2 linked regions of the Homo sapiens genome follow. The protein of the gene in region 1 purifies or fractionates together with the protein of each later gene. This does not show direct contact. Each region holds a gene or a part of one and is shown on either strand. Other genes may lie near its edges.

Region 1 (3,269 bases):
AATAAAGATCTCCATTCATATCTTTACCTTTTATCCCTTGTTCTGAGTGCCAAGAATTAATGCTATTTGAAAGTACAAACTGAACCTGCCAAGCTTCGGACAGCTAAGATAATCCTAATTATTTTAAATGTTAGTGAGAAGGGCAGCAGTTCCACTCTGGAAAAGAGTTCTATTGTGAAACATTAAATATATGCTAAGTGGTATTGATTGCACATGATTTTATTTCCAAACACTATGGTTATCATGAAGTGGAAGAATTTGTTGTTTAAGAAATTTTCATCAGCTTTTCATCAGATTCTTTCTTATGCCTACAAAGTCTAGGAAACTGAAGAGGCCAGCAATTTTGTTTGTCTGCCTTGGCAGTCAGCATCTAGATGAAGAGTTGGTAACAACTGAAAAATGCCACTTGTATTTTATTTTAAAATGGTTTCTTAGGAGTTTAATAGTGTTTAACATATAGAGGAAGGAAAAATGTTTTTAAAGCATGAATATCCTGTTTTCTCACATCACTGGAAGAGAATTATTCGTTCCAGTCCATTGACTTCCAACAGATCATTCAAGTTAAAAGTCAGGGGTCTTTGCAATGTCAAAAGATTTAGCACTTAGAGTTTTGTGGTTTTTTTTTTAAGAAGGTTTTCTTTTTTGACAGTATAAATATTTTTCAAAAATAATACTCATGGTTAGATGGCATCAAAATCATCTTGAAGTGTTTTTTCCCCTCATTGGTAAGAATGATCCTGTGTAAGGTTTTCTGTTTATTTTTAAATCATAATAAAATAACATCCCAGTAGCTTCGGTAGACAAATAGGCTTCTTGAGAGAAAACAGATACTAGATTTGCTGGTTCAAACAAGGGTCAGCCTCGGAGGTTTACCCACCTTTCATTGTAACACAAAAAAATATCAGATGGGCAAGTTTTCCTTTTTTCTTTTCCTTACTTTTCAGTCTCTGCTGTGGTGTGCAGAAATAATTTCTTCTATTTCTGTAAATGCTGGGAGGCTATCAATGATTATAGGGTAGTATAATCCTTAATTGTTTATTGCCTGTGAATGCTTCCTGCCCCCAACCCCAGTGCAGCTGGCCCCAACTCCCTTCCCCAAGCACAAGAGCAGTACACTAACATCTTCACTGACGGTGTGTTGAGCATCTCAGGCTCAATTATTCTTCCTTTCTTCGGGGTTATTCCCCAGAGTGGAATTACCAGGTCAGAGGGGCTGAACAGCTTTATGGTTCTTATTACATGTCACTAGATTGCTGTCCAGAGAGATTGAACCAATTTCTAGTGCTACCAATACTATCTGTTCCCCCACAGTGCCACTGACGCTAGGAGTTAGCATTTTTACAAAATGACCTAAGACAAGACTTTTGAGTTGAAATTAGCCTGGTGTAGGGCCCCTTAGAATCAAAGAGCGAAAAGCATCATTTAGATTTTTGAATTTTTAATTGGTATGAAATAATTTACAACGGTCAACTATTAGCCTTCTCCTTCCAAAAGTTTAAGGAAGCTGCATTAAAATGGAAAAGGTACCTCTGAGGGACGATCTTTAAGGATGGTAGTAAAAGTGATTTTGGACATTAGTCACTAAGGAAAAACACACTAAATCTTTTCACGTACCTAGAACTCTATGAGGGGCTATACTTAAACAGATACTATCCCTAACTTCAACAGCCTATTATTTAAAAACAATGCTAAGCCTTGAACAAATGTAAAAATAGCATGGGTTTAAATTTTGAGTGGAGAAACACTATAAACAATACGGCTGTTTTTCAAAACAGGGTGAGTTTTACATTTTCTCTAGAGTGCAGTCATGCATTAAAAGTATGCTTGGAGCCCCGCTAGTCCATGCAGGTAATATTCTGCATGCTTTGTGGCCCCACGTCGCAAGAGCACTTTCCAAGAAAATATTCATAAGGCAAGTTAGAGCAAAAGGGGGATATTGTCAAATTCCTTTCTTTTGCAAAATTCCCACTCCTCCCCTTTTCAGTCCCAAGTTGGCTAAATGAGGAGAGGGCATCTCCCGGGGCATCTCCCAGTCAGCTGCTAACTGGAAACAGGCCCAGGGCTCTGAACATGTTGGGAGAACACATACCTATTCCTTTACAAGCCTCTGCATCAGCTTGGCAAAGGTCCGTTGCTTTGCCTCCTTAAACTCACACAGGGATTGGGAAGGTTCAGCTGCCAGTTCTGAAATGTGGGGCCCAGGAGAAGGTTGGTGCAGGGGCCAGAGCACGCCAGAGTCAGCCTAATCAGTACAGTGCTGCCCTTGACAGCTTGCACAGGATCCCTGTGTTAAACGGGGAGAGTAATTCTCTCAGTGAATGGTTTGAGGGTGAAATACCTCACTAAAGTATGTGTGTGGCATACAGGTAGTAGTCAGTAATGTTTACTGTTCTTCTCCATAGCTTCTATACAGAGAAACTTCTGTCACTGGTTGGGGGTGGGGACATTAACGCACGGACTCCAGGAAGCTCTTAGTCGGCTCTCCAGATCTGTATAGTAACAAGATCTCAAAGCAGTCTGCTGCCTTTGGAAAACATTTCTCTGTACATATATATGACAACCAGGTGCATGTATACAATTAATAAATCACCTTGGATTTGCATGGAATTTAAATGCATATAACAATACAAATTTAGTAAGATACTTTTATGAACTGTAATAAGATGAAGGCTTCATATTTCCTAGATTCCTAGTTTTGGTTGCTATATTTATATATGCATATGCGTGCTTTTTTGTTATGAAATACTACTTAATGACTCCCTTTAAATTAAAAAAAAATATTTTCCTATATTTTAAAGCTTACAAACTTATCCTTTGCTTTTTATTTACCTTATTAAAGACTAAACAAATCTATCAATATAAAAAGTAACCACTTGTCAGGAAATTGCCTAAATTGTTTTTCAAATTTATTCACTTACTGAATTTTCAGATCATCTCTTTCCTTCTTGGATATTGAGGTAGCTGTACAAAACTATCCATTTGTCTATCTGTCTACCCATATGTCACACTGGAAGAAGGGGGCCTTCTGAAAGAATGTGGTCCAGTGGAGTGGTTAAGGGCCTGCTTCTTAAATCCTAGCTCTGTTCTTTTATTTCTGTGTGGTTCCACTAGCTGCAGCAAACCTTTTCCAAACCCGTAACGAGTGTAAATAGTGTTCAGTTGTAAAAAGGTCTCTTTTCAGCATGGTAATATACCTTATTAAATTCCAAACATAATAAGTATTGATGGCAAACACATCAGGACCCAGTGCAGCTTCTACTATGATTTAG
Region 2 (3,822 bases), on another chromosome or scaffold:
GGGCCAAGAGGGGGTCCTTGGTAACATCTTGTGCCCAGGATCCCAGATTTCAAACAAAATCATTGCTCCCTGGAGGCTGCTGGAACAACCATTGGTGAGCAGGCAGTCAATGCCTGTGTTACTTTCCTAGAATTGTCACAGCCGGACAATTGTTGGAGCAAAGAGGATTCACGTCTCATGATAATTTCCATGGCTGCAGTGTTATGCTGAGAAGGATGTTGAGGGCCCGTCTTGTCTTGGCAGGAAGAGCGTTGTCTGGGGAGAATGTGATAAAGAGGTGTGTAGGTTTTGAGGTCTACAGAAAGGGACTGTGAAGGTCTGCATGGGGACAGCACACATACCCATATTTACCACTGCTGACCTTGGTCACTCTCTTCATTTTATCAAGGAGTAACTGAAGATAATTGGAGACTAACGTGATTTCCTCACTGCCATAATTAGTGGCAGAGGTGGGACTGGAACACAGGCAAGAAACATCCCAAGTCACAGGTTCACCTTGTGTCATCTTTGCTTTTCCTTCTCTAAAATGAGGACCCCTCCCACCTCACCCAGGGTGGGAAAGGCCAGTTCATCCCAGAGAGCTGCTAGGAGAGGGCAAGAGACAACTTGGAGTGGCTCCGAGGGGCAGCTTTCCTCCCGGACTCTCTGGACGGAGGGAAAACCCCAGTCTTTTGTGTGATTCCTAGGGGGTGTGCCTGCAGCTTTCACCTTCAGAGGCAACAGTGAGAAAACCAGGGTAGCAGGGCTTGGCCCTAAACTCCACAGCCTAGTCTAAAGGCCAGATGGAAGGTAATGTATGAGTTATAGGATGTGGAATCCGCTTAAGCTTGAGCCCTGTGATCTAAGGGTAGTCCCCTCTGAGCTGGTTTCAGCAGACACCTTTCTCACAGGATTACATGAGTGCACAGTAGGCAGTCAACAAATACGGACTGATCACACACACCATGTTTTCTCTTCCCTCGGGGTCTCTGCACATGCAGGTTCCTCTGCTTGGGACATTTCCCCACTTTCTCTCCTCATACACTGCTCACCGGATCTCTGGAGCACTCAGTTTACACCCTGTCTCTTCAGAGAACACTCTGACTAACCCGAGGGGGTTAGGTAACCCCCTTCTGGGTGTCCACAGGACTCTGAACATATCCCATCACAGCATTTACCCCACTGGACTATGGCGGCCTTTCTCCTGGATTAGGCTGTGAGGCTCTGAGGGCAACGACCACAACAGATTCAACTCTGTACCCTCAGTGCCTTGCACTCAGTAAACTCTCAAAGAATACATGCTGGCCAACTTACTATATCAATGCCTTCTGTTCCCACTCCATTCATGACCACAATAAAGAGCTCTAAACAGAGCACCAAACCCAAAATGCTATTTTTTCCCCAAAGTACTAAAATGTGGGTTTAAAAATCAAGTCACCTGCAGTTTTGCTTTATATTAACTGTAAAAAGAAGAAATTCCTGAGAGTAAACAGTGCCCTATAGTGAGAATGGACAGACTGGGGCCCCACTACCTGCTCCTCCAAAGTCCATCTGGCTTAAGACAGAATGGGTAGGCCGGGTGCCGTGGCTCATGCCTGTAATCCCAGCAATTTGGGAGGCTGAGGCAGGTGGATCACCTGAGGTCAAGAGTTCAAGACCAGCCTGGCCAACATGGCGAAACCCTGTCTTCACTAAAAATACAAAAATTAGCTGGGTGTGGTGGCACGCGCCTGTAATCCCAGCTACTCAGGAGGCTGAGGCAGGAGAATCACTTGAACCTGGGAGGTGGAGGTTGCAGTGAGCCGAGATTGCACCACTGCACTCCAGCCTGGGGGACAGAGCCAGGCTCTATCTAAAAAAAAAAAAAAAAAAAAAAAAAAAAGACAGAACGGGTATATGTCCACGGGTTTCCAGCTCCAGCTTAGTTTCATTGTTGTACTAGCAGCAGGCAGGTGAGAAAGCCAAGATGATCAGGATGCTGTTTTACAAAAGCCTCGGGATCCTGAAAAGGGGAGGAGACAGAGAATGGTATTTCTAAACTTTCCCAGGATTGGGGCTGCCCTTTCTACAGCGTAGAAATTTGGGGTTACCTGAATGACCTACAATTTCACCTTCTCTTCTGACCTTTTTCCCAATTTTATAGTCCATCTCATTCTCAAAAATCATTTGAGACTTTGGGAGGTTGAGGCAGAAGGATCGCTTGAGCTGAGGTGTTTGAGATCATCTTGGGCAACATGGTGAAACCCCATCTATATTTTTTATTTAAAATATTTAAAAAAGTTTATTTGAAGAAATCATTTGAGGTGACTGCTGTTGTTTCCTCAGGCCTATGTCTATATCAAGGACTTTTAATAAAGAAGGGGCATCCTAGCTGTAAGATCTCGGATAAGTGCCTTTCAATCTACTTGAGCTTCAATTTCCTTATCTGTAAAGTGGAAGTAATAATAACCAAACTGGAGTGTTTTGATTTTAAAACCCCGTAATATACAGGGAGCATTTAGTCCAATGCTTGCTATACAGCAGGTATACAATAAATGAAAGCTGTTTTCACCAGAAGATCCAGAGAATGGCAAAGTTCTGAGCGGACTTTCAGGAAAAAAAGAAGGCAAGAGAAGAACTAAGCGTTTCTGGGAACTATCTTTTTTTTTTTTTTTTTTTTTTTTGAGACACAGCCTCACTCTGTCGCTGAGGCTGGAGTGCAGTGGTGTGGTGCAATCTCAGCTCACTGCAACCTCTGCCTCCTGGGTTCAAGCGATTCTCCTGCCTCGGTCTCCCGAGTAGCTAGGATTACAGGCATGCACCACTGTGCCCGACTAATTTTTGTATTTTTAGTAGAGACAGGGTTTCGACATGTGGCCAGGCTGGTCTCGAGCACCTGACCTCTGGTGATCCGCCCGCCTCGGCCTCCCAAAGTGCTGGGATTACAGGCATGAGCCACCATGCCTGGCCCCTGGGTTTCTGGGAACTATCTGATAGGGAATCTAGAACTCTGCACAAGGGACAGTGGCTATGGAGAACTCTGAAATTTCTCAAATGTTTGTCATTCTTCTGCACAGTCTTACTTTACTTAGATCTACAGTTTAATCTTTTAAATAAAAAAGGCCCAAATACTTATTTAGGGAATCCCATTTTGGAAGAAAGGGAAAGAAACTAAGCAACAGGGGAAAATGGCTTAGGAGAGAACAGCTGCAATGTTTGGAGGCCAACAGGAATGAAAACAGGGACGTGAGAACAGGAGAAACCTGGAGGCCTCCTTTTGAGGATTCAGACCTGAGAAGGCTGTTCCTCATTCCTTCCCTCCTGCTTGCAGAGGTGTGGCCCACAGCGCAAGCATCACAAACCACACTAGTTCTGACAATGCTCTGTTCAGACTCTAGGTAGTCCCATGACCCCTACCTGGTGTAACCTGACCCAGACAGCCAGTTACCAGGATGTGTAAAGGACACCTGATTCTTTCTGTGACAGTGTGGTTACCCTAAACCTTGTAAGACATGACTACAAAGAGAATCCCAGTCTCTGGCTTCAGTCCATACGAGAACAAGTAAAGCCGCCTGAATCTGGGTCAGAAAGTAAAGTTGCCCTTCTGGAGCACGGAGAGAATTACTGCTTGTCTGACAATCTGTATCCACAAGGCAGTGGTTCTCAAGCCTGGCCTGGGCAGCAGAGTCACCTGGAGAGCTTTGAAAAAAACAGAAGCTCCAAGCCATCCTAGACCTACTAAGTACCTCAGGAGTGGGGCCTAGGAATACATACGGTAGTTTCTAAAAGCACTACAGGTCAAGCTGGGTGTGGTGGTACACACCTGCAATCCCTGCTACTCAGGAGGCTGAGGTGGGAGGATCC

Evidence for each region.
Region 2: the proteins of DMRT1 (region 1) and MECR purify together in Homo sapiens (affinity purification with mass spectrometry; one large-scale study listed by BioGRID and IntAct). This does not show direct contact.

The regions. Positions count from the first base shown.
Region 1 is NC_000009.12:963,582-966,850, forward strand, and holds part of DMRT1 (doublesex- and mab-3-related transcription factor 1), read left to right. Parts: intron 1-3,269. UniProt on the Homo sapiens protein: Transcription factor that plays a key role in male sex determination and differentiation by controlling testis development and male germ cell proliferation.
Region 2 is NC_000001.11:29,224,335-29,228,156, forward strand, and holds part of MECR (enoyl-[acyl-carrier-protein] reductase, mitochondrial), read right to left. Parts: intron 1,695-3,822; exon of another isoform or gene 1,418-1,694; intron 483-1,417; exon of another isoform or gene 389-482; intron 278-388; exon of another isoform or gene 1-277. UniProt on the Homo sapiens protein: Catalyzes the NADPH-dependent reduction of trans-2-enoyl thioesters in mitochondrial fatty acid synthesis (fatty acid synthesis type II).